Linked DNA regions of Homo sapiens. The protein of the gene in region 3 purifies or fractionates together with the protein of the main gene of each other region. This does not show direct contact. Each region holds a gene or a part of one and is shown on either strand. Other genes may lie near its edges.

What was found.
Region 1: the proteins of HNRNPC (region 3) and STAU1 purify together in Homo sapiens (affinity purification with mass spectrometry; 2 studies listed by BioGRID and IntAct, with this or other methods). This does not show direct contact.
Region 2: the proteins of HNRNPC (region 3) and NCBP1 purify together in Homo sapiens (co-immunoprecipitation; 3 studies listed by BioGRID and IntAct, with this or other methods). This does not show direct contact.
Region 4: the proteins of HNRNPC (region 3) and HNRNPM fractionate together in Homo sapiens (co-fractionation; 2 studies listed by BioGRID). This does not show direct contact.
Region 5: the proteins of HNRNPC (region 3) and RBM45 purify together in Homo sapiens (affinity purification with mass spectrometry; 2 studies listed by BioGRID and IntAct, with this or other methods). This does not show direct contact.
Region 6: the proteins of HNRNPC (region 3) and FAM120C purify together in Homo sapiens (co-immunoprecipitation; 2 studies listed by BioGRID and IntAct, with this or other methods). This does not show direct contact.
Region 7: the proteins of HNRNPC (region 3) and ELAVL2 purify together in Homo sapiens (affinity purification with mass spectrometry; 2 studies listed by BioGRID and IntAct, with this or other methods). This does not show direct contact.

The regions. Positions count from the first base shown.
Region 1 is NC_000020.11:49,114,917-49,119,187, forward strand, and holds part of STAU1 (double-stranded RNA-binding protein Staufen homolog 1), read right to left. Parts: intron 3,493-4,271; coding exon 3,417-3,492; intron 3,181-3,416; coding exon 2,861-3,180; intron 2,333-2,860; coding exon 2,210-2,332; intron 952-2,209; coding exon 866-951; intron 1-865. UniProt on the Homo sapiens protein: Binds double-stranded RNA (regardless of the sequence) and tubulin.
Region 2 is NC_000009.12:97,636,591-97,640,861, forward strand, and holds part of NCBP1 (nuclear cap-binding protein subunit 1), read left to right. Parts: intron 1-4,203; coding exon 4,204-4,271. UniProt on the Homo sapiens protein: Component of the cap-binding complex (CBC), which binds cotranscriptionally to the 5'-cap of pre-mRNAs and is involved in various processes such as pre-mRNA splicing, translation regulation, nonsense-mediated mRNA decay, RNA-mediated gene silencing (RNAi) by microRNAs (miRNAs) and mRNA export.
Region 3 is NC_000014.9:21,234,650-21,238,920, forward strand, and holds part of HNRNPC (heterogeneous nuclear ribonucleoproteins C1/C2), read right to left. Parts: intron 1,812-4,271; exon of another isoform or gene 1,724-1,811; intron 1-1,723. UniProt on the Homo sapiens protein: Binds pre-mRNA and nucleates the assembly of 40S hnRNP particles. Interacts with poly-U tracts in the 3'-UTR or 5'-UTR of mRNA and modulates the stability and the level of translation of bound mRNA molecules. Single HNRNPC tetramers bind 230-240 nucleotides.
Region 4 is NC_000019.10:8,468,435-8,472,705, reverse strand, and holds part of HNRNPM (heterogeneous nuclear ribonucleoprotein M), read right to left. Parts: intron 3,933-4,271; coding exon 3,872-3,932; intron 1,381-3,871; coding exon 1,279-1,380; intron 1-1,278. UniProt on the Homo sapiens protein: Pre-mRNA binding protein in vivo, binds avidly to poly(G) and poly(U) RNA homopolymers in vitro. Involved in splicing.
Region 5 is NC_000002.12:178,121,825-178,126,095, reverse strand, and holds part of RBM45 (RNA-binding protein 45), read right to left. Parts: intron 2,575-4,271; coding exon 2,445-2,574; intron 2,269-2,444; coding exon 2,184-2,268; intron 1,970-2,183; coding exon 1,806-1,969; intron 113-1,805; coding exon 1-112. UniProt on the Homo sapiens protein: RNA-binding protein with binding specificity for poly(C). May play an important role in neural development.
Region 6 is NC_000023.11:54,081,897-54,086,167, reverse strand, and holds part of FAM120C (constitutive coactivator of PPAR-gamma-like protein 2), read left to right. Parts: intron 1-251; coding exon 252-453; intron 454-1,091; coding exon of another isoform or gene 1,092-1,126; exon of another isoform or gene 1,127-1,145; intron 1,146-4,271.
Region 7 is NC_000009.12:23,815,989-23,820,259, reverse strand, and holds part of ELAVL2 (ELAV-like protein 2), read left to right. Parts: intron 1-4,271.

The DNA.
Region 1 (4,271 bases), on a different chromosome or scaffold from region 3:
GACACTAGTTTTGAAATGTAAGAGAATTAAAGTACTGTTAAAAATGAAAAGAAATTGGCAAACATCAGGAAGTACAATACTAAAAGCCCCAGTTTATGATAACAAAAGTTTTCCCAGGGTATGCCAGTAAGTAAAATACGCAAGGAGAGTGTGTGTACTTATCTCTGTGGGGGGAAAGGAAGAAAATGAGGGAAGAAATATATGTCTATATTTGTATAAAGAAACATACAGGAAAGATACAGGAGAAACTAGTAAAAATGTGATCTATGGGGGAGGCGGTGGGGAGAATAGGAGGGATGGGATGGGGGCTGTCCGAGGGGAAGATTGTACCTTGTAAAATAATGCAGAGTTCTGACCATGTGAAGGTATGACCAACTCAAAAAGGTTTTTTTGTTTTTTTTTGGGACGGAGTCTTGCTCTGTCGCCCAGGCTGGAGTGCAGTGGCGCTATGTCGGCTCACTGCAACCTCCGCCTCCCAGGTTTTAAGCAGTTCTCTGCCTCGGCCTCCCAAGTAGCTGGGATTACAGGTGCCTGCCACCACACCTGGCTAATTTTTGTATTTTTAGTAGAGACAGGGTTTCACCATCTTGGCCAGGCTGGTCTTAAACACCTGACACCTCATGATCCACCTGCCTTGGCCACCCAAAGTGCTGGGATTACAGGTGTGAGCCGCTGTTCCCAGCCTCAAAATGTCTTTTAAAAGTAGAGCTTTCTGCCCAGAGAATCTGGAAAACTTTCAGGCAAAAGGGCCAGAAAGTAACTCAGGCAAATATTTCCCCGCTGAGTCAGCAGATAGTGTAAACTCAACACAAACGAGGGGCAGCCTCCCCATCATCAGCGCCTTCCCCTTCATCAGTGCACTCACACAGACATTGGTCCGTTTCCTGTTCTTGGCATCTCTGTACTTTGTTGGTCCAACTCAGACAGCAACTTTAAGATGTTCAGCGCAGCCTAGTGGGGATGGAAAGAAGGGTAAAGCCACAGCCACCGCTTGGGACCACAGCATAATACACTGGTCAGGCAGGCAAGAGAGTTCCTGCTGCCCAGCAAACAGGTGGCAACTTCTTCAACTCTGGTACTACTAAATAAAACTTTGAATTTTTAATTTAAAATACAAATTAAAAAATATTCAGTTACCTCACTGAATCATAACCTCTGAAAATGTTATATTTTTCCTTCTAGTATTTTTAACCATGTGGTAACCAGACTGTATAAATGTTATATCCTGCTTTCTAACAAAAATCTATCATGTATTTTTCTTTCTATAGAGACAGGGTCTCACTAAGTTGCCCAGGCTGGTCTCAAACTCCTAGGCTCAAGCGATCCTTCCACCTTGGCCTCCCAAAGTGCTGGAATTACAGGTGTGAGCCTCCACACCCGGCCTATCATGTATTTTTCTTCTTATTACATTATCTTCGGAGACACTGTTTTGTTTTGAAACGCAGTCTCACCCAGCTGCCCAGGCTGGAGTGCAGTAGTGCAATCTTGGCTCACTGCAACCTCCACCTCCCGGGTTCAAGCGATTCTCCTGCCTTGGCCTCCCAAGTAGCTGGGATTACAGGCACCCACCACCACACCTGGCTAATTTTTTTTTGTATTTTTAGTAGAGATGGGGTTTCACCACGTTGGCCAGGCTGGTCTTGAACTCCTGAGCTCAGGTGATCCGCCTGCCTCAGCCTCCCGCAGTGCTGGGATTAGTGTGAGCCACCACACCCCACCCAGAGACATTAATTTCATGCATGCATGACATCCCATCAAGTGAATACATCACAGTTTACTTAGATTTGTTGATCTGATCAATTCCTTTTCTCAGTTTTCTTATAACAATAATTTCATCTGAACAGAAGACCAAAGCAAGTGGTTTTTACAGCTGCCAGAACGTGGACCTGCAATTCCTTGTTCTGGTGAGAGATGAAGTGAGTGCAGTCTCTGGGTGAGCTGCAGGATCCCAGTTGCCCCTCCAGGCCAGCAGGGAAAAGGAAGGGAAAGGTGGGCTAAAGCTGATGAGTTCTGATCAAGAGTGAGAAATCGATCCAATCAGCTATGACAAAAAGTCTTCAAAAATATGAACACTATCAAACGATTCATTGCTCTCAAGGTCTATGGGACAATCTTTCTCCCATCTTCCTCAGGCTAGTAACAAGCTGAACCAAGGCAGGCTCCACATAAACACACAACACCCCAATCCCTCACCCAAGGTGTGACGTACCATATCATGGCAGGACTCCACATCCTTGCCGATACCATGGCTGATCAGAGGTGGCTGAGAGGAGCAATTGATAAGAGATACAAATTCGTTCTTGTTGTTTTTGGGGAAGTCTTTGTATTCAACCTAAGGGGGAAAAGAGAGCTGAGGCTAGGTAGGGAACAGCAAGTATGAGTGGGCTGGAGGGCTGCAGCTCCAGGCCCCACAAGCAAGATCACCAGCTCTTTTTTCCAACTCAGCCCCACTGTGGCCATACTAACACCTGCCCTGTCAGCCCAGAACCTTCCAGGAACCTAGGTGTCTGCTCAGAAGCCCAAGACTGGGAGAAGCCATATCCTTTCCTACCAGACAGAAAGTGTCAGCACGATGAGTCTGTTCTTTGAAATCCAAATTTACAACCACTGCTAGTGGTTAGAAGCTTTTAGGGTTGGCTTGCATGTTGAAATCTTACTACCAAAGGATAAAGATATTTCTCTTACCACATATGCTTACAATACTTCTATACCTCCTACCCTTCCATCACTGCTCCCCAGCCCATCCCTGGACAGAACTTGATTTAAGAAAAAAGTACAAAGTTCAAAGTTCATTTTCTGAGAGAAGCCAAAAGATGACTGTCCTGAGGCACAGCCATCACAGCTCAGGCCAGACAGTTACCTGGAATCCCTGGACTCTGGAAAGATAGTCCAGTTGCTCAGAGGGTCTCGTGAGAGGTCCATGGGGTACGTGGCCTGAAGAGATGTTATTCTTTAAAATGGTCTCGGCTGTGGGCGAGGTGCCCCCATACAACAACTCTCGGGCTATCATGGCAGTTACCGTGGCCTTGGCAGGATTCGGAGCTGCCCTGGTAAAATCTTTGGTGTGATGTCCTTGACTAACTCCTACAGCCTGGGCGACCTCGGGCACCATGGGAAGAATTCCAGCAGGCAGCTGCTGATGACTTAGATAAGGCATCCTGAACTCATCCTCTTTATTACCTGGGAGGGACATACACGGTAAACACGAATCCACATCCACAGCCTGGAAAAACGCAATGACACCATCAAACCCCACGCTGGCCCTCCCCTTGGCACGCATGGCAGCGCAGGGAATCAGGGAATGATAAAGACACTTTGCATGCGGGACCTCACTGGCTGGGCTCCTGCTGTTATTCAGGACCCATGCAAATCCCAGAATCACGTTCAGAGGAAGACGATATTAAGATCACACTTACTAGTCCCATTTTCATCCCCAGAGCCAGGTTCAAAAAAGGTTACTTTTCTTCCATCCCCTGGTTTCTTTATGGGTGTCTTAAAAAAGAAGAAGAAAAAAAAAAGGCCATGAGCATAAATCAGATCACTGAAAAATTAGCTCCTGCTGTCTAAATCTACACAAAGTCCAGTCAGCAATAACTGTGGCAATCGGCAGAAAAACCCTGCCCCACCTGACCACTGGCACCCTGACAGACACCTGGGCAGAGCCTGCCTCCTTCTCCTAATGCACCCTCCTGCCCACACCCCTGCCCACAAAGAGCATCTAACAAAGTGCACTAACCTGTGAATGCTGAGCTGCACTCTGCACCCACAGGAAGACGGGAAGCATTTAACCAGAAAGAGCAGAGATGCTAGACGGTAGAGCCCACCAAGGTGGGGAAAGAAGCTTTCAGACTGAAGCTAAACAAATAAATCAAGAATATTTCCTGGAGCTGATATCCAATTAAAAAATAAGGTGACATTCCAAAATTAACACCCTTACGGGGAAAATGTTATTACCTAAGAATTTTGTCTAACACAACATCACCTTTCTAAGAAGTAACAAAGGACACTCTGAATGTCCTACAAGATTCTGAAATGAAAAACCCTAAAGCCAAGTCTAAGATCTATACTGGTGGTATCTGGGGTCCCAGTCAGTTATTAACTGGCCATGACTGATGCTGTTTCTGTCAATATGACTGGCAGACATGAATGAATCAGGCCTGATTTCAAGTTTATCTCACCAGGACCATTCAGTGATGGGAAAGAAGAAGGTCAGCCATGGCTTTTGCTGAGGTCCTGCTTACCACTTCTGGCAGACACGAATTTTTCTTTTT
Region 2 (4,271 bases), on a different chromosome or scaffold from region 3:
ATAATTATATACTGTATATATAGAAGCAAGCATATGGAAAGTAATACATATATATATATATATATATATATATATATATATATAAAATCATTTATTCAACAAATACTTAACAGTGCCAAGCTCTGTCCTAATTACTTGCCATACAGCAGTGGACAATATAAAGATAGAGCCTCCCCTCTAGAGTAGAGAGAAGACAGTCAAGTAAAGTATAGTGTATCATATAGTGACAGGCGCTATGGAGTGATACCAGGTAAAGAGGGGAGAGATTTCTGTGAGGGAGAAGTTACTATTTTATGTAAGTTGATTAGAGAAGGCTTCGGTGTGAATGGCATTTGAACAAAGACTTGCCGGAGGTAAGGTAGCAGCCATATAGCTGTATGGGGAAAAGCTGTGATCCAAAGGTAACCATGGGCACAAAAGCCTGAAGACTATAGGGTTCCTGTCATGTTAACAGAAGAGCAAGGAGGCCAGTGGTGCTGGAGCAGAGTGAGTGAGGGGGAAGTTGTAGGAGATAAGATTAGAGAGATAGCAGAGGGTTGCATCTTATAGGGAGATTATAAAATTATACTTCTGTGTTGAGACTCGACTATCAAAGATTAAGGGGGGTAGGATTAGGAGGCTATACCAATGAAGTTCATGTAGTAGTCCATTTATAAACAAGGAAAAGGAAATGCTAAATGGAAAGTAATGTGTATGGATACTAGTCCAGTGCTAAATCTTAACTAATTGCTTAGACTTGCTTTAAAAATGTCTCTGAAGCTTTTTAGTTACTATGGGATATGCAGTCCATTGTTTGTTCTTTTAAGAAAGTATTTAGATTGTTCAAAATCTTAGCTAGAAACAATACGAATACAATTTTGGGAATTTGGGCAATTTACAAAAATTTCAGATTTGCTGTATTAGCCCCATTTAAGCTTCTTAGAATTAGGTCCTTGTCTTTTGGACTGTGGCTGATTTTTTTACTTAACTAAAGAAAAAAATAGAAGTGAAAGGATTTGTTATTTTGAGAGAGTATAGTTTATTTCAGAAGTGATGGTTGCCTGTTTTAAGTCTGCGGGCTCAAGGCATGTTATCTTTCAAGTTGTTCAATATCAAAATAGATGAGCCAAAAAGAAGGGAACAGTGTGCTTAAGGTTTAAAAACGTAATGTTGAAGTTGTTGGTTTTAGTTACTTTACTTTTCTATTTTACAGGGTTGGTTTTTGTTTTCCATTTTGTGGGTCTAAAATTTCTTGTAAGGCTATAAGATGTACAGTGTACCCGTATAAAATTAGGATTGACTTATAGAGGGGAAATTTATTTGGTTTATTAAGATCCTTTCAGATGGATTTTATACCTGCTTCTCTATACTAGCCAAGTCTGTCTGAGTGAAGTGGTAATGTTATCTTTAATTTACATTTTAAAACTTTTACATAGTTAAATTTTAATAAAAAATCTGTTCTTGCCTTGGGAACTACCATAGATACGTTTTCTTCAGGGTACATTGAGCGAATTCCCCAAATTGTATTCGTATTGTTTTATTTCATTTCCCTGTTCCCTTACCCAGGTTGTCTTATGAGTTCAATATCATGTTTCTGTTCGTAAGTTCAGATTTTGTCTGTAGTCTTCACCCCTTTATAGTCTCTCAACTATCAGGTGAAAGTGGAACATTTCTTACCTCTTAATACTTTCTGCCTCCTCCCATTCTCCAGACAAATATTGTCCTTTAATATAGCCAAAATGAACAAAGGGTTTGCAGTTCAGAGATGTGACTATGTACATGTATTTTCTAGTTGTTTCTCAGAAATCATACCTTCTCTTCCCACAGCACTATTTTCCCCTTTTCAAGCTTATAAGAGGGCCTAGGAGGGTTGCTTTAAAGGCTGTGGTATGATTCCAAACTGGAACAAGCCAGCTGGAAAGTTAAGTTAGGAAGACTGTAGAGGTGGAATAAAGGGTTGGCAAAATAGATGAGCCAGAAAGAAGGGAACAGTGTGCTTAAGGTTTAAAAAACAGCAACAAAAAATAACTGCTCTCATTCAGCTAGTTTTTCAGCATCTGCATTCTCCCAACCTCACTGAAATTTGGTTCTGAGGAGCTCTGCTTTCTAGAATACGGTTTCTTAACATCAGCACTATTGACATTCTTGGCCAGTTATTTGTTTTGGGAGATGCCCTATGCAACGTGAGATATTTAGCAGCATGCCTGGCCCCTACCCACTAGATGCCAGTTGCTTCCCCTAGTTTTGACTACTAAAAATGTCTCCAAGGTTTGCCAGATGACCACTGGGGGCAAAATCTACACCCTGTTGAGAACTACTGCTGTAGAAGAAGGCTATTTGAATGTCCTAGCTGGCAGCTTGCGTAAATATTACATCAATTATGCTTTTTTTCAATAAGTGAATCCTGGAAATGAAAGACCTTTGTGTGAAATTTGGCACTTTGGGTGGTGGAACCTTGATAGGTCCTGTGACTTAGGTTTGATCTATACTTAAGAATCAAGGTCCCTGAACCTCTGTGCCACACATGTCTACAACTTTACACAGGCAGATATCTCCAGGAATAAATACATCTCAGCTCTCATGCTGCATGCGTATTATACTTTTTGTGGCATTATCCTTTCAAAATTATAGTCAGTGGACATTCAGTCAGGTTATCATGGTAATTAATGGGTTGGGAAGTTGACGTACAGAGTGTCTTACCCTGTAACCTTTATAATACCCCCCCTCAGATCCTATGTGGATAGTAATAGATTCGTTTTATTCAGCTTCAGTTCATGTGGTATCTGAAGATCATTTCAGTCATTCAATAGATTTAACATTCCAAGCTTAGAATAGCCAGGTGCTGTGTTTTATGAGAATCACCATACATCATTTTCAAGCCAAGTGTTCCATAGGCAAGTAAGTGATTATGAACTTTGTAACAATAATTCCTTTGGCTGTTCAGATCTGAAGATTGAAGTTATATGTAACTTGCTACTGTGTAACCATATATCCAACTGCAGATTTTCATTATTAATACCGATTCCCTGCACAGTTACAGGCTCTTGCTTTCTTGTCCATATGCCGACCAAATAATTGAATCAATGGAAGTCGAAAATTGGATTGTATTAGACTAGCCAAAGTGTTTAGCAGCAGCATCAGGTTCCATACTTAACACTATTATTTTAATTTTTTAAGCTTTATGTTATACCACAAAAGGACTTAGGTGAGTGTGTTAAGGCTTTAAACAAAGTGGTAAGAGATACAAACAGCAAGGGTCTTAATAGACAGGTGTTTGAGGTTAATTTTTAGCACACCTTCATTCAACTTGAATTGTTGAGCAATCAAAAAGACAGATGCTTGGTAATGATTTTAGAATGGTAGATTTAAAAAACATAGAGATTATTCGAATGATATGGTTTTTAAATAAAGCAGTTATCAGTAATTCAGTTAATAAAAGCTAGTTAAAGCAGGAATTGTAAAACGTGGTCCTTTTTTCCACCAATTTTTTGATATAGTGCTCAGGACTTTTCTTTGAATATACGTATACTGACTGTCGTTCCCATTATTTAGGATAAACTATACCGTTGTGCTGCATCATATGCAGAACTGAAATTGTTAATTGAAGACTTGAGATTAGAGCTTAGAAACATGTGAAGCAAGTGAGAAATCCTAATGTTTTATGCTCCTTTTTCCCATCTTTTGAAGCTTTCCTCTTTATAGCTGATATGACAGCTTTTTTTTCTGATCAAGTCTTTCCAAAGCATTCGACTTGGTTTTGCACCCTTATTTTGTCATTTACATAATACATTATTAGACTAATGAATACTACTGGTACTAACAGGTTTCGGAACAAGCAACTGAGGATCAGTAAACAACTCAAGTTAAAAGAATGGGAGTAGCGGTACATGAGTATTCTAACTACTAGTGTTTAACATGTTGTTGGCAGCTTTCCAGCTTGTCCACAGAAATGGACAGGGCTGCTGATTGCATAGCTCCATGGGCACTACTCACACAAAATTTAACATAAATAATGCCTCCTGGAGTTATTGTATATAGTGGCTCTGGGAATGGGAGGCTGTTGGTTAATCTAGCTTAGTCTGAGAAATGGAGGGTCTGTGAAGAGCTTCTACTCTGTAAAAACATAGGGCCTGGTAGAAAAGAGATTATAACCTAAAAAGGTTAAATAAAATTTGTGATAGCAGATTTATCATGTAATGTTAATTTTTTATGTTGCTGAAATAGGTGGGCAGCCTCACAAAAGGAGAAAGACCTCTGATGCAAATGAAACTGAAGATCATTTGGAATCTTTA
Region 3 (4,271 bases):
GATTCACGTTGCTTTTATTGAGTTTCACCGGTTCTGTATATATACACACAGCATAGCAAACGTCAAATTCTGTCCCAAGCCATTCATTAGCTAGATTAATATGGATAGCTTACACTTACCCATTAAGTATAATTTTCTTCAAAAGGCAATAAATAGAATCAATTCATTTACACTGGAAACACCTATTTCCAGATACTTCAATTAATCTGCAGTATGCTTTAGATACATAAGTATCAATACCATCTTTTTACAGACTGCAATGACTCGAAGGCTACTTTTTATATAACCTAAAATATAGGACATTTAATAATATCGGATGGTGATGATGATAAAACTAGCCAGTGGAACACGGCATGAATCAAATTAAAGATTGGGGAATTAAAGAAAAATACACAACTTTCCACGCATTATTTAAAACCAAAAATTATCTGTCTTTATGTATGTGATGGAGGCTCAATCCTACCATAACCATATGCAGATTCACAATACCATCTCAGGTCCCGTAAAGCGAAAATGTTTTATTTCATTCTTTTAGCATTTTGTTTCCTGCCTCTTCCCACTCCAACCCCCAATCTTGAACAAGATTTAAAAACATTCTTAAGATTGATTTCCCCTTCATCCCTTTGAAAGGTACTGATAAATCTCAAAAGATTCCAGTATTTGTTATCCTTCCAATCCTCAAGTGAATCATGACAAACTAGTTCTCACGGATGATGTAAAAAAGTCTAATGTATACATATATGTACATAAAAACAGGTAGTTTAACACCATTTCATATATACATGACTCCTATCATTCTGATGCTTAATACAGTCATTTAACAGGCAGTACTGATTTAAAAGCTCAAACAAAACTTCACTTCCTTCCAAATCTTTCTGAAATTCAAAAGTCTGTCTTTGTTACTTTCTAAAGTATATCTTTACAAAAACTTCTTAATATTTTAACACTAAGCAATAAAAATTAACAAACAGTAGCCACTGAAATCCACCAACAGCCTTTCAGCTATTAAGTATGCCAGAAAGTCTGAGGACACTAAAAAGAGGAATTAAAACAAAAATCTGCATTGAGGCCTAACTGGTTTCAGATACTACTGCTGGTTATTAAGATTTCCCATTATTACAAGTGGAGGTATAATCTGGTTTTAAGCAACTATTTTTCACAAATAGGTTTATCAATAGAAAATATAATCTCCATAGGTTTAATGAGAAGAAATTACCAGGGGTGAGGGGCTCCGTAAGCCAACACAGAATACTGACCATAAGGGAAAAAACCCATCAAACCACAGTCCAATGTTCCAAATGGACATTTGCAGAAAAATACAGATGTGATTGAAAGGGGTACCCTTTGGAATAAGACAGAAATGGATTTAAATGACCATTTTCTCAATTTTCACAAGTCTGAGTACATAGCTAGTATTATTTTCACAAGTCTGAGTACATAGCTAGTACTAATCAAGATGCAAGGAATTCATACCCCACGGCATTTTTCATGTGTATCAGGCCTTAATTCTCTCAAAGATCCACAAAGGAAAAACTCAGTAGAAAAGCATCCAGGCATACAAGGATGCTAGCAATGGTTGTTATGAGTTTAAGGATATGATTTCTCATTTTCTTTATGGTCTGGTTATTAAATTTGCTACAAAAATCATCAACTACTTATTTTTAAAATACAAAAATCCCAACTTCCAAAGTTTGCCTAAAATTAATAAAATACCCATACTTACTATGAGGACTTAAATTCAAGATGGAGGCAACAGTAAAGACAGACGTACTCACAATACGGATTAATTCCACTCTTAGTAACGTGTCCTCCTAAGGAATGAACAGTCACTACAAATTCATTCATTTTGGGGATCAAATATTTACTAACCATGTGCTGAGTACCACATTTCAGGGAAAATCCAGGGCACAAATAGTAACAAAGACTGTCCTGAGAGCTTCCTTAAATTCCAGTGGTATTGCTACTTCAAATTTTATGGAAGAGGTACATTTCCTGAAGTTTTAGAAATAACCAAATGATGTCAAGTCACACTTCATTCTACTTCAAAATTTTAAAGTATCATACAGGTGAAATTTCCATAAAGGGAGGACGATACTGTAACACAAAGAAACTACTGGAAAAGAACTGGGATTCTTGGAAGGGGTCAGCAAGAGCAGAGTAGTTTTTGAATCTCTGACTCCCAAAATAAGACTCAAGATGGCAAAATCACTATCCTACAGACAGCATTTAAATCAAAATTCCAAAATGCAAGGCAGTAAAGGCAAGCCAGCATATATGGTTTCACTGACTGTGGGAGAAATAAAAGGTAAGCAACTTGGAGAATAATAGACTTAGAAATACAAGAATACCAAAATAACCAGCAGTTATTTATTGAAAAGCAACAGGAACGAAATTTTAGAAAAGCAGTTAAAACTTAGAAGTTTCACCTGCTCCAATAGTGGGTGAGCACAAGGGACTTCAATAAAAATGTGTGAAGGTGCAAGAGCAGTTGCATCCCTGTAAAGTCTCATAAGTAAACAAACCCTATGTGGTTGATTCCACTGCCAATCCCCCTTCCTCTCACCAAAAGGTAACAACCATTATGACTTTACTAGCACTTTCTCACTTTTAAAATAATTCTAATGCCTAAATGTATAACTATAGACATTCTAGTCTTCCCAGAAAAATAAACGTGATGCATTTGAAGCATTTTTGTAGGTAAGTTCCGCTTCTATTGCATTAGGTTAAAATTTATCTGTTTAAGAATCCACAGTATTAACTTGTAGTTTCCCAGTCTGTATTTTCCAGGATTGATACTCTCAGAACAATTCCACATATTCTTCTGTAACTCTTGAAAGCAGCAGCTGGGACCAAGGCTTACTCAGCTTCATCTGCAATATTTTGTCAAGACTACCTCGTCCTACAAGTGGCAATACCTTTTTGTGGTGTTATTGATGCTTAAACAATACCATTTCTCTCTAGGTAGTATGGTGTGGTTTCTCGAGCACCACTTTTAACATGTTACGCAGACTGTTGTTAGAAATCCTAAGAACAGTCCCTCAGTTCTTTCATGTAACAGGTTGCCAGCATCCTTTTATAGTAGTACAATAGTTTAGATAAGTAAAACAAACTCCTTGATCACATTTTTTTTTTAATTTTTTTGAGTTGGAGTTTCACTCGTTGCCAAGGATGGAGTGCAATGGAGCAATCTTGGCTCACTGCAACCTACGCCTCCCTGTTCCAAGTGATTCTCCTGCCTCAGCCTCCCCAGTAGCTGGGATTACAGGCATGCGCCACCAGGCCCGGCTAATTTTGTATTTTTAGCAAAGACCAGGTTTCTCCATGTTGGTCAGGGTGATCTTGAACTTCTGACCTCAGGTGATCCGCCTGCCTCGGCCTCCCAAAGTGCTGGGATTACAGGTGAAAGCCACTGCACTCGGCCCTGATCCCATTTTCTTGCCTTGTTACTCCCTTTACATCTGGAAGGTGTAAAAACCACTTGTAGAATGAATAGGTCTACTTTTGCTTTTTGCCTCATACAGATCTAAATTACTTGGTCATATTCTATATGAATTTTTATAACCGAGTTCTAACAACTAACAACCCAATAGTAATAAATGTCCAGCAATAATAGTCTTTTAAAAATACAACTTCAAGTGATGTGCAAATTATAATTTGAGTCAAAAAAATAGTATCTGAAAACGTACAATACATAGGAGACATAAATGAACTACATAAAAATCATTTAAGAACGGACAGTACAGAAACACATCAAAATATCTTAAAATGTTCTGTGGGTACTCTGCTTGTGATTAATCTTTACAATCATTTTCACAGTTTCTCTGTATTTCCCAAATTCACTACAATGTACATACAAGCTTGGGATTTCTGTAGGAAAAACTCATTTAAGCCAAACAAATATTCCTTAAAACAGAAAATCCATTTGGTAGAAATTTTAAAAGGTTAATCACATTAGTAATAATAGTCCAAGTCTTAATGCACCTGTATATACTCAAATATTTTGAGGTCAATGCCCCTCATCATCATATTTCCCCTCTTCTAGTTGAAGGGGTCTAGAATTTTTCTTTTTTTAATGCAAGCTAACCCAGGGATCCTACTCTATCACCATTTACTAGTATGTAATAGTCGAATAATGCTGTTAGATAATAAAATGGCACTAATTTACATGAACTAGATTTAACATTAAGAAATCTGGGGCTGGGTGCAGTGGCTCACACCTGTAATCCCAGCTCTTTGGGAGACTGAGGCAGGCAGTTCACATCAGGTCAGGA
Region 4 (4,271 bases), on a different chromosome or scaffold from region 3:
GAGGCTGAGGCAGGAGAATCACTTGAACCCAGGAGGCAGAGATTGAGTGCGGTAAGCTGAGATTGAGCCACTGCACTCCAGCCTGGGCAACAAGAGCAAAATTCCGTCTCAATAAATCAATCCCTGTTAAAGGTAAAATCTTCAAAATAAAAACCAGTTCCTAAAAACACCAAGACTTCCTCCCCAACCCCCAGTCTTTCTGTTTAGATGTCAGACATGGGGTGTGTGTGTTTTGGGTCGGGGGAAACGTTAACAGCCATTTGAAGTTGTGGCCCAGAATTTAAGTCAGCCCCAGGGTGACTCTGGAAGAGAGTCTAGGGATATGCAACACTGACAATGGTGGGATAGAGGGGCTTCCATATTCCAATTTCAAAGGATTCCAACAAAGACCAAAGTCTAAGGTCATAAAAATGACATATTCCTTAATAGAATCAAAATACATCATTACACAGCAATGAAAATGCTAAACAGCAAAGCCTGAGTTTATTCTACACATCAAAGCTTTCATGCAGGTTTTTTTTTTTTTTTTTTTTCTGGAGACGGACTCTCGCTCTGTTGCCAGGCTGAAGTGCAGTCATGTGATCTCAGCTCACTGCAACCTCCGCCTCCCGGGTTCAAGCAATTCTCCTGCCTCAGCCTCTTGAGTAACTGGGATTACAGGCGTGCGCCACCACGCCCGGCTAATTGTTTTATTTTTAGTAGAGATGGGGTTTCACCATGTTGGCCAGGATGGTCTCAAACTCCTGACCTTGTGATCCGCCCACCTCGGCCTCCCAAAGTGCTGGGATTACAGGCGTGAGCCACCGTGCCTGGCCTCTCCACCTTTTTTGCATCTATCAATGCCCCTAGCTCTCTAGCAGCAGCTGTGCAAACACCAGGAGGGCCCAAAGGGGTCTTGGTAAGACACTTTTCAGGGCACTGCGGCAGTGCTATGGTCCCGTGGTCAGGAGACCTGCAGCCTGTCAGTAACTGACAGTGTGACCTTGAGCAAGATCAACTCTCTGGCTTGCCTCCTCTTATCAAATGGCACAACTATTTCAGCTTAGAAGGTTGTTGTCAGGTTACAATGAAAAAGCATAATGACTTTTTAAAAAATGACTCAACTTGATAAAAATACAAAATACTGCCTTTATTCAAAATGAGGCAGAGATGAATAAGGAGGGAATTTTGTCCCAGTTAAATATTTATTCCATTTAAACTACTCAAAGTCCAGTTGTCCCAATAATTAATAATTTTCACTTCCCCAAACCACCAAGCAAGGTGCACTGTCATTCTCACCTGCGGGACCTATGTTTCCCATTCCGATGCCTTTATTCAGGTGATTGGCATCAATGGGTTGCCCTCCTGGTCCTAACCCCATGCCAATACCACCAAGGCCATCTGGAAAGAAAAGAGAAAGAAGCTTAGTTTTCCCCTATTTAGCAAACCTTGACCCTCAAAGGAAAAGAGTGTTTAGTGAGTTGCAGCTATCCACTTCAGCCTACCCACCCCCACCCACCAGTGACCTCAGGGCCCAATGCAAAATTCAACATCGGCACACTTGGAAACAGAGCCTTGTTCCGGCGTTTGGGATATGTGTGTATACAACAAAGGCGGCTGAAAACCAACACGGGAAAGTTAACAACCCCCACACTAAGATTCTTGAGAGCCTATTTGTTTCACTAACCCATGGACTGAGAACTGTCTGATCAAAAAAGGTGACTCAAGACATCAGGTGGCAAGCAGCACAAATGTGCCCAATCCCTAGTAGCCCAAAGGATGTTTCTCATGAAAAAACACGTTACAAACCAGCCAATCAACATCCTGGGTGTCCACTACTCTCTGAATCTGGGTGGTTTTAGTAACAATGAAGCTAATGTATGTATTCAAAGAACCTATCTTCCTTCCCCCAAAGCTTCCCAACCCACAACTGGATACCCAGCCCACACTCAACTCCATGCCCTACCAACACAGACAGGGACACAGAAATACAGGCTGGTCTCTGGAAACAGCCAAAAGAGCTGACACTTGCAATATCTGGGGTAACCACCATCTGAGGCTTAAACTACAACCAGGTAAGCTTTTAAAAATCGTAACAAGGGCAGGCGCAGTGGCTCACGCCTGAAATCCCAGCACTTTGGGAGGCCAAGGCGGGTGGATCACGTGAGGTCAGGAGTTCGAGACCATCCTGGCCAACATGGCAAAACCCCATCTCTACTAAAAAAAAAAAAAAATTAGCCTGGCATGGTGGCACATGCCTGTAATCGCTGCTACTTGGAAGGCTGACAGGAGAATCACTAGAACCCAGGAAATGGAGGTTGCAGCAAGCCAAGACCGCACCACTGCACTCCAGCCTGGGCGACAGAGCGAGACTCCATCAAAAAGAAAGAAAAAGGAAGAAAGGAAGGAAAGAAAGCAAACAAAGTTCATTTAAAAAGTAAATAAAACCTGCCACCACTTCCCAGGCGTTTCATCTGATGAACATTCCATCTTTAATTGCATAGCAACAGCAGCAAGAGATCGCCACGGTGACTTACTCTCCCAAAGCACTGAAGGCTTTGAAGTCAAGCCTCCGAAATGGCCGGGAGACCAAGAGCCATGGATAACAGGCTCCCTGGAGCAGTGTGCTCCTCCTCCTGCTCCAGCACAAGAGTCAACAAGAGCCATCGCCATGGTCCAGGGTGACCACTGCTCAGGTGAGCACACTGACAATTTATTTGGGAAATGAGTATGTTATGTCCAGGAAATGCAATCCTTCTCTAACTAATGTTGCCTTTCAACAGATGAGCCTTCTCATGAAGCCACAGATTTCCCTTCAAGATACATCTGTCATGCTGCCATAATGCTACGCTGCAAAGGTGCTCTGGCCTGGGCTCCCATCCAACTCAGTGAGTAGGGCCCTGAGCTTGAGCTGCTGCTCCAGACCAGGCCCCCTCAACCCGCCTGGTGGAGGTCACCCCAGCACAGCACACACAGGCCTCTCACCCTCATCCATCTTTCTTCTCCAGGAGAGCTTTACCTGCGCCAGTGATTCCCTGAGTCGTCCCACCGCTGTATGCACTGAGGTTCTTGCTTCCAGCCTCTGGCTTATCTATGACTCTGCACTAATATTTGCCACTTCTACCTATGTGGTAGCCCATCAACTAGCCTTCCCTGTCACGAGACAGATTTTCACCTGGGTGTCACAAATAGCTGATCCCTTTCCCCTCTGCATACAAATTATTTGTTCAAGACACTTCACATACCATAAAACTCAAAGTATTCGGTGGTTTTTAGTATATTCAGAGATATGCAACTATCACTACCATTTAATTCCAGAACATTTTCATCACCCAAAAAAGAAATCCAACCTTATTAGCAGTCCCGTCCCTACTTACTCCTTCCCGGCCTCAGGCAACCACTAATCTACTTTCTGCCTTTATGCATTTATCTATGCGGAGCATTTCCTGTAGATGAAATCGAGGTTCATCCACACTGCAGCATGTGTCTTTCATCCTGCTGCAAACATCTGCGTGCGAATTTCTGTGCAGATGTCTAGTGTGCACTGCTAGCCCACATGGGACTAACCAGTATCTTCTGAATTAGAGTGCAGCCTGGTTTTCATTCCCTTCACAGGTTCTGATTCTTCCTTCCCCAGGACACTTTCAAAATGCCTAACCACATCCTCTACATCCTGGTATTACAATCCTAGGATTACCATGAGGTAATCCTAACAATATCCTCAAGTTGTGAATCTCTGCTCATTTCTCACCCTGAAAAATCTATAGAAAAGAACTGGCCAAGAGAACTGAGGGCTAACCTGGCACAGGTTCAAGTGAAACCATATGGTAATTTTCTGTTTATTAGTGTAACTCCAATTCAAACTCTCAGCCCTAATCACTGAAACACTTACGGGGAAGTTGTTGTGGACGCTCAGGAGGGAAGAAATCTCCTTTTGGTAAGGCCCTCTCATCCTGAAAGAGAAAGAAAACAAACAAATCTCAGTATCCAGTGCAGCAGTGTTTGCAACAGCAAAAGACTGAAATGGCCCCCCATCAAGAGAGGACCAGCTAAACACATTATCCACGCCATGGAGTAATACGCAAGGGTAGAAAGGCATGCGGAGCATGCTTCCTATTTTATGTCAAGGGAAAAGACACATGGATATTATTGTGGGGGATGATGGGGACCTGGGCAAGAAGTCCAAGTAGGACTCACACTATCTTCACACTACCTTTTCATGCCTTTTGACTTTTGAGTCACGTGAATCTATCATCTATTCAAAAAACTTACCTACTCTATTTAGAGTAATG
Region 5 (4,271 bases), on a different chromosome or scaffold from region 3:
CTTTCCATGTAGAGTGGCAATGGCATCATTAGCACTTATTCTATCGGCATACTTGGCATACCCCACATTTTTTCCTGACACAAGGTAAACTTCGATCAGGTTACCAAAACGACTGAAACAAAGTGAAAAAAATAATCAACCAAAATTGATAAATACAACTGCTCAGGTCTAAAATTTGGAGTCCATTCTTGACTCCATTTTCACCCTTCTCCCCAGATCCAACATCCAACTCATGTCAATCTTAAACATCTCAGTCAATTCTATTCATTCTCATTCAGATCTCTCTTCTCATTCAGACCATCATCTTTTCCTTAATCTAACTCCTTTTTCACTAGTTTCCTTACCCCTGAGCTTGTCCCTCTTCAATCCATTTTTCACTCTGTCTTCTGAGTGATCTTTCTAAAACATAAATATGATCATTTACTCCCTAAAAGTCCCCTCAGCAGCTCCCCATTGCCTCCATGGTGACAACAAATTCCTTAATATAGCTCTAGAGCCGTTCTGACATTGTCCTTGGACTCTTTAGTTTCATCTTCCTTAACAATCTCTCAAATTCCCTATTTAACAGCCCTTCTTTTACATTCTCTATGGCAGAAATAACCATGCATACCCCCAGCTTTCACCTGTGGAGAAATTATTTTTATACTTCAGGTCTCCACATACACCTTCCTTCTTTCAAGGCTTCTCAGAGTTTCTAAGGTAACTGCTCCTCCTTTGTATCTTACACATTCCTTATCACAGCAACAATCACCCTGGGTTGTAATTTTCTGTTTACTTGTCTGTTTCCTACATGAGATCAGCTCTAAGAGGACAAGAATCATAATGTCTTGTCCATTTAATATTTTGTTTACATGTCTCTTGTACTTAGCACAGTTCCTGCCTTGAACAAAGAGGAGGTTCAAGAAGAAAACTAAATATATCAGTTAAATAAAGGTCAAAATACTTGAACCATATCCTGATATTTTTTTCCTTTTGAGCCTCAATATACTATCACATTATGTCCCTGATATTTTGTGCAGCTCTTTAACAAGCTTCCTGTCTATCAAATTCACTAACATTCTTGTAAGGCAAATGGGAAAAAGGCCTAAAAGAAAAAGCAAAGAAAGGAGTTATGTTAAAAACACAAAAATAAATAAGAACCTTCCCTTTTTTATTATAAAAAACATTTATGTATTTTTCCCTACAATCAAGTAATTGTTTACACAATGCGACTGCATAACCCTTAAGGATCCTACAATGCACCAACAAAACAGAAGATGCTTAGCAAAAAAAACACAAAAAACAAAAAGGGTCTCACTCTGTCACCCAGGCTGGAGTACAGTAGCACAATCTTGGCTCACTGCAACCTCGACCTCCTGGGCAAAAGCAATCCTGCCACCTTAGCCTCCCAAGTATCTGCGACCACAGGCATGTACCACCATGCCTGGCTAATTCTTGTATTTTTTGTAGAGATGGGGTTTTGCCATATTGCCCAGTCTGGTCTTGAACTCCTGAGCTCAAGCGATCCCCTGACCTCGGCCTCCCAAAGTGTTGGGATTACAGGCATGAGCCACTGCACCAGGCCCACTTTATGTTTCAAAAACAAAATAGCAGGAAATTCTCTATGGAGCCTTAGGATGTGTGACTGATAAACAAGAGAAGAAAATAATCAGAAATTGAAAAAGATGATACAAATAAGGAGGTTTTAAAAGCAGAGAACTAATACTCTCTACTTGATAGGTACTGGGTGAAGGAAGTGTCTAGATTATAAGAATAATTAAATTACTAGTGTAAATAAAATATAACAAAAAATGTAACTTTCTTACCAGAATATATCTTCTAATACGTCTAAAGGTAAAGGATGAGGATTAAACACAATAAAAAGTCTTTCTTTCACAGGAGTTTCAGCAGGAGCTTTTTTTTTGCATGATGGAAGTACAACATCTGTCTGGATTTGAGGCAACTGTGATCCAGAGCTTCCTCCAAATTGCTGTTAACAGGTAGAAAACAAGAAAAAGAAAAAAATGCCCTTTAGGGATTTTTGGCCAAGAGCTAAAGACAGATATGTATCATGGCATCTATGTGGTCTTCCACAATAGCTCTGAAAATTTTCATACACAGATAATCAACAAAGCATGATTTCTCTTCACATTTATTTTATATGCTATTGATATATTATAAAGGTTAAATTCTTACCTACTTACCATAAATTGTTGCTGACTTGGGTTATTCCACACCATTGATGCAAGCTGTGCAGCTACCATCTGTGTTGCCATTTTTCTAAGGAGACTGGAAAAAATAACTGATAATTTACAGAAAACTAAAAATATTCAGTCTTTTAACAGTAGCTTGTTTTGTGTGACTTTCTCACCTGAGAGGTCAATTGTTTCTATTTTTATTCTTCAAGTCCTATCAATCATGTACACTCAAAGCTCGGCTTTAGACACTCCTGGAATGGTACTTACTCTGTTGCATTACTTCCATCATCAATGAAGGAAACACCTATTCGGTTCCCAGGAGGGTACTGAAATCCATGTAATTTGTATTTTGCATAAATAGCTGATGCTACATTAAAATACTGAACCACTCCATGACCTAAAATAGAGAACATACAGAAATGAAAAAGGAAAGCAGACTGAGTGCCTAAGGCCTATGTTACAATCTATCACAAAAATGAAACCATGTAGAACTCTAATATCACACAACTAGTAAATACAGAATCGAATGTATCAGAAAACACAGTTCTGTTATCATGTGTGCAACAGGTGTATTCCTAGAAAAGGAAGAAATAATTTAGGGAAAAATATGAACATGATATTTTAGGGAAAATGGAATATTAACATACGTCCTGTCTAATAAGTTTAGTTTTAGGATACTAGCTTTTCTTATATGATACCAATATACTTAAAAGTCTAAATTTTTATTCTTTGAAATCTACTTTGAAATTTTAAGATTTTCCCAACCATACTGGGTAGGAAATGAAATGAGAAGTGATAGTTGAAAAGAATATATACTCATCCCGGCTATCTGCAGCAGTAGGGAGAGGAAAAGTGATTTGAATGAAAAACAAAAAGATAGGGAACAGAGGATCTCAGATCACAAGTGATATATTTTACTTTCCTTTGGAGAGATTTCTGCCAAAGGGACGAATTTCAATTTAGGAGGGTGATGTTGAAGGGAGGGACAATGTTATAATGCATTCCTTAGAGAGCCCAGGAGTTTGTGACACAACTAAAAGGTTTTCACTTTTATAATACAAACCACTGGGGAAACACTTATAATTTATGTTCATCTGGAAACCCAAGCATCCAACATTTTAATGAAATTAAAATAAAACACAGAAATCAAATGACCATATAAAGTTAATTCAAATGAGATTCGAACTATATGATGACACCTCTATTAATAAAAAGATGTTCCAATGACACATATATTTCAGACACATCCAACCAGAGAAACAAAACAGGAGGTACAGGAACAAATACATTTTGACATACCAGATAAAAGGGAGGGAACAAAACAAAATGAACACAACTTCATATGCATATAACAAATGTGCCAGAGAACACAAAAATGTGTGCCTAGAAGTCTTAGAACAGAGAATGACGCATATGATCGGGTTAAGACTGGGGATGGCTCAAAGACAGTTCTACAAAAAGACTAGTGCTGGGTTGGGTACTAGTGAGTATGTGGGGGTGTCTGTATGAAGGGTGGAGTTACCTTAGTCCTGTTGGTCCACATGACCAAACTCACGTCACTACTTCTATGTCAATAGCCATGCCACTCTAAAAGGACTAAATCAGGTATCCTTACAAAACTGGAAGAGATGCCAACCAAGTATGATTTCTCTCTACCACCCCTCACTAACAAAGAAAAAAAAACCCCTTAGATTTACTGAGTGCCCTATTACATGCCAGAACTTGCATTAAGTTATTTTACATATATTATCTCTAATTCTTACCTAACCCTGGCAAAGAAGGTATCAATGATCCCATTTTACATACGAGGAAAGAGAGGCTCAGAGGGGATAAGCAAGTTGCCAAGGTCTCAAAGCTACATGTCACTGCTGGGATTTGTACCCGATTCTATGCAAAATGGAATGCCAGACTTTCCCATTATGCCACAATGCCTCCATTAACAAAGAGCCTTAATAAAATCAAAAGCTTAAAACACAAAGATGGGTTAGCTAATGTTAGATAATGGGTTTAATCAATTAACTAATTAATAAGTTCAAATGGCTGATATTGGAGACTTGCTTCCATTGAGAATTGGAAGAAGCAGGAGAGAAGCAG
Region 6 (4,271 bases), on a different chromosome or scaffold from region 3:
CTAGTCAATGTACATCACAAGCCCTGAGTCAGAACTCATATGATGGTAGTGTGATGTCATGTAAAGAGTCGGGGCTTTGGTGCCAGACAGGCTTCCTGAGTGTGTAGCTTTGAGCCCTTTAACGACAGGCCTCAGTTCACTTAATGGGAATAGAATTGTGAGACTGTACCTAGAGTGCTCCATCCTGGGCCTAAAACATGGGACAAGTTCGAAAAATGGCAGCTGCTATTATTACTCTTCCTCATTTGAAGGCTGACCTGGCAACCAAAGTGGAAAAGATGAGACAGAGCATCCTTGAAGGAGTCAACATGAATCATCCACCGCCTTCTGCTCTACTTCCGTCACCTACTTTTGTGCCTCCCATGGTGCCCTCTCTCTACCCTGTTTCACTTTATTCCCGAGCTATGGGCTCCATGCCACTTCCCCCTCAAGGGAGGAGCCGGGGATTTGCAGGTCAGTACCAAAGAATGAGGTATTTACCATCCTCAATTTATGTCATAATAATCTATCCAGTCATTATTGTCAATAACAGGATCAACAGTTTCACATATATCTCATCTCATTGACTTTTTTTTTTTTTTAGACGGAGTTTCACTCTTGTCGCCCAGGCTGGAGTGCAATAGTGTGATCTCGGCTCACTGCAACCTCCGCCTCCTGGGTTCAAGCGATTCTCCTGCCTCAGTCTTCTGAGTAGCTGAGATTACAGGCATGCACTGCCACACCTGGCTAATTTTGTATTTTCAGTAGAGACAGGGTTTCACCATGTTGGTCAGGCTGGTCTCGAACTCCTGACCTCAGGTGATCCACCTGCCTCAGCTTCCCAAAGTGCTGGGATTACAGGCGTGAGCCACAGCGCCCGGCCTCATCTCATTTATATTCTGTGCTATGTAGTTTGAAGAGCAGCTTATATCCATTTTGACTTTTAAGACCATTCTTCATAGAGGTCGTTGGTCCCCAGGGATTTGACTCTCACCAACCAAACTCATGAAGTGACTGATGTGGAAACCAGAACCCACTTTATTACTTTAGAGAACCGTAAGTCATATGGACTGGCTCTTCATGGTTACTGTTTGTTCATTCCTTCCATATAGGCAATGCACACAGGAGCTTGCAGGAAGATCAGTGAGAGTAAACGGCCAGTGCTGGTAGGCAACAGTAGCTTGATGTATCCATTTCCACTCTGCGAATATACTTGACACATTTCCCTTCCTTCAGCTCCAGAAGCATGGAGAGAAATATGTCACCATCCATGCCACCAGAGGATTGCAGTTTAGTGAGGAAAACATACACACACACACACATATGTACACACAAACATATGTATAAATTACGGTGGCACTTGAGCTACAGTTTAACGATGAATACACAATCATGCCTAGGTTGCTCAGATACTGATCCTGATAATTGAGACAACCTGTCCCGTGGTGAAACAAGATTTTTTTTTTTTTTTTTTGAGGCCTGGTCTCCCTCTGTCCACAGCCCGGCTAATTTTTGTATTTTTAGTAGAGACGGGGTTTTACCATATTCGTCAGGCTGGTCTTGAACTCCCATCCTCAGATGATCTGCCCGCCTTGGCCTCCCAAAGTGCTGGGATTACAGGCGTGAGCCATGGCACCTGGCAGTGAAACAGGATATTTTAGTGGAGACATTTCAACATAAAATAGCAAGATTCTGTGATTGGGTCAGAGTGTCATCGCTGTGGTTGAAGGTGTTTGTTATCTATTGCTCCTCCCTTTAAAAGTAATAAAGCTGGAAGTTGAAGTTAGTTTTTTAGGGTGACAAAATTCAGTATGGGTGGTTAGCTCAAGGCTGGGCTTAGATGAACAGTGTGAAAGTCTGCTCTGGTAACTCCCTGTTCAGTCAGATCATGATCAAGTCTTAAAAACCAGGGAGCCAGCCAGTCCATCCCTTTCAGATGACTTTACAGATCCTTTCTCCGTTCTTTATGTGTTGATTTTATTTTGTAAGTCTCAAAAGACAGCCTTAATTTAAGCCAGGTTCTTGGAAGGTCACCACTGCCCTACCTACCAGTGATGCTTAGTCTCCAGTTACTGGTGGTTCACAAGGAGCCTCTTGCCTCCTGAAAGCCCACAGTAGGATCCTCAAATGCAAGTCTTTCTTGTCCCTCTTAAAAGTAACTAGCACTCTAGGCAGGGAGCAGTGGCTCATACCTGTAATCCAGCACGTTGGGAGGCCAAAGTGGGCAGATCACTTGAGGTCATGAGTTCCAGACAAGCCTGGCCAACATGGTGAAACCCTGTCTCTACAAAAAATATAAAAATTAGCCGGGCATGGTGGCGGGCACCTGTCTGTAATCCTAGCTACTCGGGAGACTGAGACACAATAATTGCTTGAACCCGGGAGGTGGATTGCAGTGAGCCAAGATCGAGCCACTGCACTCCAGCCTAGGAGACATGGCGAGGCTCTGTGTCAAACAAACAAACAAAAAGGTAACTAGCACTCTAGTTCCTTGGACTCTCAAGTTTTATAAAGTTTTATATAAATGAAGGACTCGTGTGTGTGTGTATGTGTGGATACAGGGTCTCACTCTGTCGCCCAGGCTGGAGTGCAGTGGTGCAATCATGGCTTGCTGCAGCCTCAACTTCCTGGGCTCAAGTGATTCGCTCATCTCAGCCCCCTGAATAGCTGGAACTACAAGCATGCACCAACATGCCTGACTAATATTTTGGTGTGTGTGTGTGTGTGTGTGTGTGTGTGTGTGTGTGTGTGTGTGGAGATGGGGTCTCGCTATGTTGCCCTGGCTGGTCTTGAACTGGGCTTAAGCGATCCTGCCTGCCTTGGCTTCCCAAAGTGCTGGGATTACAGGTGTGAGCCACCATGCCTGGCCTAAATGAAGTACTCTTTACTAACAACCTGCTAAATGAGTTAAGGGTTCATTTGGTTTCTTGTCATAAACTAAAATTAAAGGCCTAGTAGAACTCCATATTCTATGAAGGCTTATTTTTGTGCTAAATTACAAAACCCACTGTGCTTGTGACTTGGTTCTGGTTTTCAATTGTTGCTGTTCTTGCTTTTTTTTTTTTCTTTTGAGATGGAATCTCGCTCTGTCACCCAGGCTGGAATGCAGTGGTGCCATCTCTGCTCACTGCAACCTCCACCTCCCAGGTTCAATCAATTCTTCTGACTCGGCCTCCTGAGTAGCTGGGACTACAAGCATGTGCCACCACGCCTGGCTAATTTTTTTGTATTTTTAGTAGAGACGGGATTTCACCATTTGGTCAGGCTGGTCTCGAACTCCTGACCTCAAATGATCTACCCACCTTGGCCTCCCAAAGTGCTGGGATAACAGGTGTGAGCTACCATGCCCGGCCTATTCTTGCTTTTTAATTATAAATTACTGTTAGTTTAGTTTCATTATTTTCAGTTTAGTTTGGTTGTTGGTTGTTTGGCTAATTCTACAATCTGTAATGATGTATATTTGTATCAAAAGTAGTTTAGGACCGGGCACGGTGGCTCATGCCTGTAATCCCAGCACTTTGAGAGCCTGAGGCAGGTGGATCACTTGAGGTCAGGAGTTCGAGACCAGCCTGGCCAATACGGTGAACCCCTGTCTCTACTAAAAATACAAACATTAGCTGGGCATGGTGGCATGTGCCTGTAGTCCCAGCTACTCAGGAGGCTGAGGCAGGAGAATCACTTGAACCTGGGAAGTGGAGGTTGCAGTGAGCCGAGATTGCACCATTGCACTCCAGCCTGGGTGTCACAGTGAGACTCTGTCTCAAAAAAACAAAAAAAAGAGTAGTTTAGGCTTGTAATTTTCCAATAACTAGATGTTAAGACATTCATTCTTTCAACAAATACTGAATGCCTACTATATGCTATGATCTGTGATTAAAAAATGAGTCACCTGCACCATACTTGGTAAAGTAGATGTGTACAGATCTCCGGCCCTCCTCACTAAATGTGCTTCCATCATGACACCTTTCTGTTATCACAGAATCTTTTTTTTTTTTTTTTTTGAGACAGAGTCTTACTCCGTCCCCCAGGCTGGAGTGGAGTGCAGAGGTGTGAACTTGGCTCACTGCAACCTCCACCTCCTGGGTTCAAGCGATTCTCCTGCCACAGCTTCCTGGGTAACTGGGACTATAGGCACGGACCACCACGCCCGGCTAATTTTTGTATTTTTAGTAGAGGCGAGGTTTCCCCATGTTGGCCAGGCTGCTCTCGAACTCCTGACCTCAGGTGATCCACCCGCCTCGGCCTCCCAAAGTGCTGGGATTACAGGCATGAGCCACCGTGCCCTGCCACAG
Region 7 (4,271 bases), on a different chromosome or scaffold from region 3:
AGTCCATTTAAAACCATTCGAATATCAATTGCTGTGTAATGTCCCCATTCCCTCAAGTAAAATCTGTTTGTTTGAAATATTGTTTTGTTGCCCTTGAAGAGTTTTCTCAAGAATCGTTTCGCCAGAGTCGCTTGAATTTCCCATTTCTTGTGGAAGCTGACCTGGAGTTTCCATTTTGGTGAGCGGGTGGAAAAGCTGTCCTGCATCTACCTTGTCTTAGTAACCTTTGGGTATATATAAATGGTGACTGTATTGCTGAGTGGACCCGAATGTTACTGCATTTGTGGTAGGGGCCTTCTTTATAGGAGGTTTGTAGGGATGCTAAGGTAACAACACTTAAGGTTGTGGGGAGGATATACTTACGGGAAGTTCGCTTGCAAACTATGGGGAGAGAAAGAAGAGGAAGAAAACATCTGGAAGATAAAGGCCAGAATGGGGTAGGAAAAATTAGAATATGAAGAAACATGTTACATTAAATTTTCTGTGATTCCTCCTTTGTAATTTTCCTTTTTGAGAGAGTATTTTTATTTTTGTGTGGTTAAAACCAGCCCCTTGTTGCCTGTTATTTGGGTAACTTTGTGCTGCCACCTTTCAGGGAGTTAGTTGTTTTTTTCTTCCTTTGAAAGACAACTTTAGGTGTTAAGCCCCTCCCTCTTCCTTATCTGTAGGTGTTTCCTTCATTGTGTAGTGTCTTCTTTCAGGAACAATCAAGTCAGCTATATTCAGTGCTCACACACTTTCCCTGTGGTTCAAGATAATTTTAGTTATAGGATATGCTTCTTGTTTAGAGCAAGTACCCACTGCTGGTCAGTGTCTACCACTCTTTTGACACTCAGTGTCAAAAGGTTACTATGGAACCTTTTTTCTTTTCTAGGCCTAAGATGTGTTTTTATAGATCCTCTCTGATTTAGTTTTTTTGGTTGATTTGTTCTGGTTACCGCCTCTTCACAAGAGAAAAACAAAGCCTTTCTGTCCCAGTTTCAGTGGTTTTAGTTAAGACTCAGCTCCTGGTAGGTTAAGGGAGAATGATGCTGTGAGTGTCATATACCATCATTCCTTGAATCAACCTTTTGATTATTTATACACAGACAGATGCTGCTAGCTGAATCCTTGTAACCAACCGCTCTTGGCTCTTCCAGCCTTCCCTGCTTATCTTTTAAAAATAATGTGCCTCCCCTCCTGCCACCCCACTTCTATTCTAGAAGCAAGTCTTAGGTTCTCTTTAAGGACACAGCAAAGCCTTCCAGAATATCCTGACTTTTAAGCTGGGATCAACCTTTTCCTCTTTCTTTGCTGAAAGACATTTTTTTAAAAAACCTGTGACGCTTTTCAGGCATTATTGGCATTGCACAAGAGCACCACAGTGGCAAATTAGCCTTCATGTTCTTTTTCCCCAAAGGACTAGATACTCTGAAATAGCTTCTTAAGCTTCTTATCAAGACTGACTTTACCATTCCCCTTTTTGATGACTTGTCTGCATGGTAGCATCAGTATTTTCGCTCCCATTTGATGTCTTATTAAATCTATCACATCGTCACATTCTTATTGCCACTTTTATCACTCATAATGTTTATTTGGAATTGAGAGAGGCTAGAATCTGTGGTACTTAGCTTGGTTTGGTTACTTTTTTGTTGACATTTTAAGGGGGCTAGATGGTGTGCCACCCTGTGGAAAACCTGCCCATCTCAGTCTACCCCCAGCTCTTTGTTTCTTGGCTACTCAGCTGGACAGGTCAAAAATGATAGTAAGCTACCACATTTGAGTGTGTGTGGGGGGAGGTTAATTTTATTTTTGGCGTGAGTACTTAGTTATGGGCAGGACTGCTTTTCCAGCTTGTAACCGGTATGGTTGCACATCCTACCCAATCTTGAAATTCTTAAGAATTTTTGGACAAGGTTACCCTGCATTTTCATCTTGCACTGGGACCCACAGATTACGTAGCTTTTCCTGGTTAGTTGCCTTCCCACTTGTTAGTATTTAGCTGTCAGTATTGCTGCTTTGTTGATATATTATAGAACTGTTTGAAGGCTTTATGTCTAGTGATGCCACACCTGACTATCAAATTCACTATGGAGGACATAAAATGCATAAAATTTTTTCTTGCTTTGGCCATTTTCATTTTACAGGTGTAGAAGTCTTCACCGGTTCTGGTTACGCACAGAGCCCACATATTGTAGTTCAGTGCCAAATCCACACTTTTGTATGTTCTAATTTGGGAAGAACATTTATTGTATATTTATTTGGTTCGAGATACTAGACGGTTTATAGTGCTAGTTAATTATTTAAGGATTTCACATAACGTAAATTTGCCAAGTGGAAACAGAAGACACTTAAGCTTGAAAGGCAGTGCTTATTTTAAGGCTTTTACATATTAAAAGATAAGTGTTTTATTATGATTTAAATGATAACTTTTGGAGTCTGAATTAAAAGTCAAAGTTTGCGTAATAAAATCTTAGATTTTTGTGGGGTACTTAGGACATTTTTCACTAGTAAATTTAACAGATTTGGCTTTCAGCTTGTGTGATGTGTATCATATGTTTCATTTTAGTAAGGCTAGAAGAATTTTTTATTTCAAGGGAAGAATTTTTTTTATCTCTAAGCTTGTATTCCATTGTGCAAAACAAAACAAAAGGTAACTCTTGTGTGAGCAACGCTGTGCTAAATGCATTCTCATAGACATCTTCATCTTTAATATCAATGTTAAGTTTCTAGAGATTGGTCTTAATAAAAATAACTATTTTTGCAACGAGCATTCTTTTCTCAGAGCTTTGAGTTAGGCTCTCAATGCGTGAACTGAATTGATATGCTTAATGACATGGTACCTTTTTGAATATTGCTGAATAGTTCTGTGTGACAACAGATACAGGTTTTCGTTGTAAGAAATCTTTATGAAGAGAAGGATGGGGGCTTTGAGGAGTAAAATAGGTAAAATAACCCAGAAAGTCATAAGAATAGGTGGAATGGGGATAAAACTAAACCAGTTTATAGAATGCCTTACAGTGTCTTTTTTTTAAATAAACTTGCAGTTTCTTAGTATATATTTATATTACTGATATCTATTACATCAGTTTCTGACTGAAAATGAATAGGAGATAAGGTCTGACATGCAAAATCCCCTTTCCCACTTTTAAAAATGTATTTTAAAAAACTTGACAAATTTAAAATTATACTTACTGTAAGACAGTAACAGTAAAATGATAGGTTTTTTTTTTTAAGACACAGTGAAGGTTTTGCTTTAGCACTGGTATATTTTGAACCAGGTATGTTATCTACAGTTTGATGTACCTGTATATTTTTCCGTTGGCCAATCTAATACAGATGCTCCTGATAAACCCATTGCAAGTTGAAAATGGCATTAAGTTAAAAATGTATTTAATACGCCTAACCTACTGAATATCAGAGCTTAGTCTAGCCTACCTTAAACATGCTCAGAACATTTATGTTATAGTTGGGCAAAATCATCTGGCAACACAGAGTATCCATTTTTCACTCTCATGATCCATTGCCTGAGTGGGAGCTGTGGCTTGCTACCATTGCCCTATATCGAGAGAGTCTCTTACCATAGACTGCTAGCCCGGGAAAGGATCAAAATTCAAAATATAGTTTCTCCTAAACGTGTGTTACTTTTATATCACCATACAGTTGAAAAATCGTAAGTTTGAACCATCATAAATTGGGGACCATCTGTAGTGATAGATTTAATCCTTGGGTTTTTCCTTTGACTTAAAAAGTTTATCATGAAAGGGAAATTTATATTCTAAATGTTCTTTTCTTCCAGCATTTTGTTTTTGTGGGTTGTTCATTATTGGAGATTATTTCAGCAACTTTAAAGACTATGTTAATAGGATATCACAAAAATCTTTTATAAATATCAAAGCAATAAACTATTCCTTCAAGATGGATTTTTATCCCCTTTTTTTTTTTTTTTTTTTTTTTTTTTTTACTGAAAGCTTTTAGTACACACTTTCTTGACTAATTTCATCTCTTTATGGGACTAGGGAATGATAGTTGTTTTGAGATTCTTAGCTTTCCTGCATTTCTTTAGAGTCATTGTAAAATTGGAAGTTCTTGTTAATATTGAGGGGCTAGAATCTCTTTAAGCATTTGAAGAAAGCTGTAGCTGTCTCTTCCTAGAGAAATATATACAAATAAGAAATTTCCATACAGTTTTTAGTATTTTGCACTTTGGAAGAAAGCGTGTTAAAATGAGGTTCCATTTGGGAAATAGGACTTTGGCAATTAGAGTTGTCTTCTTATACTAGTGAGAACTG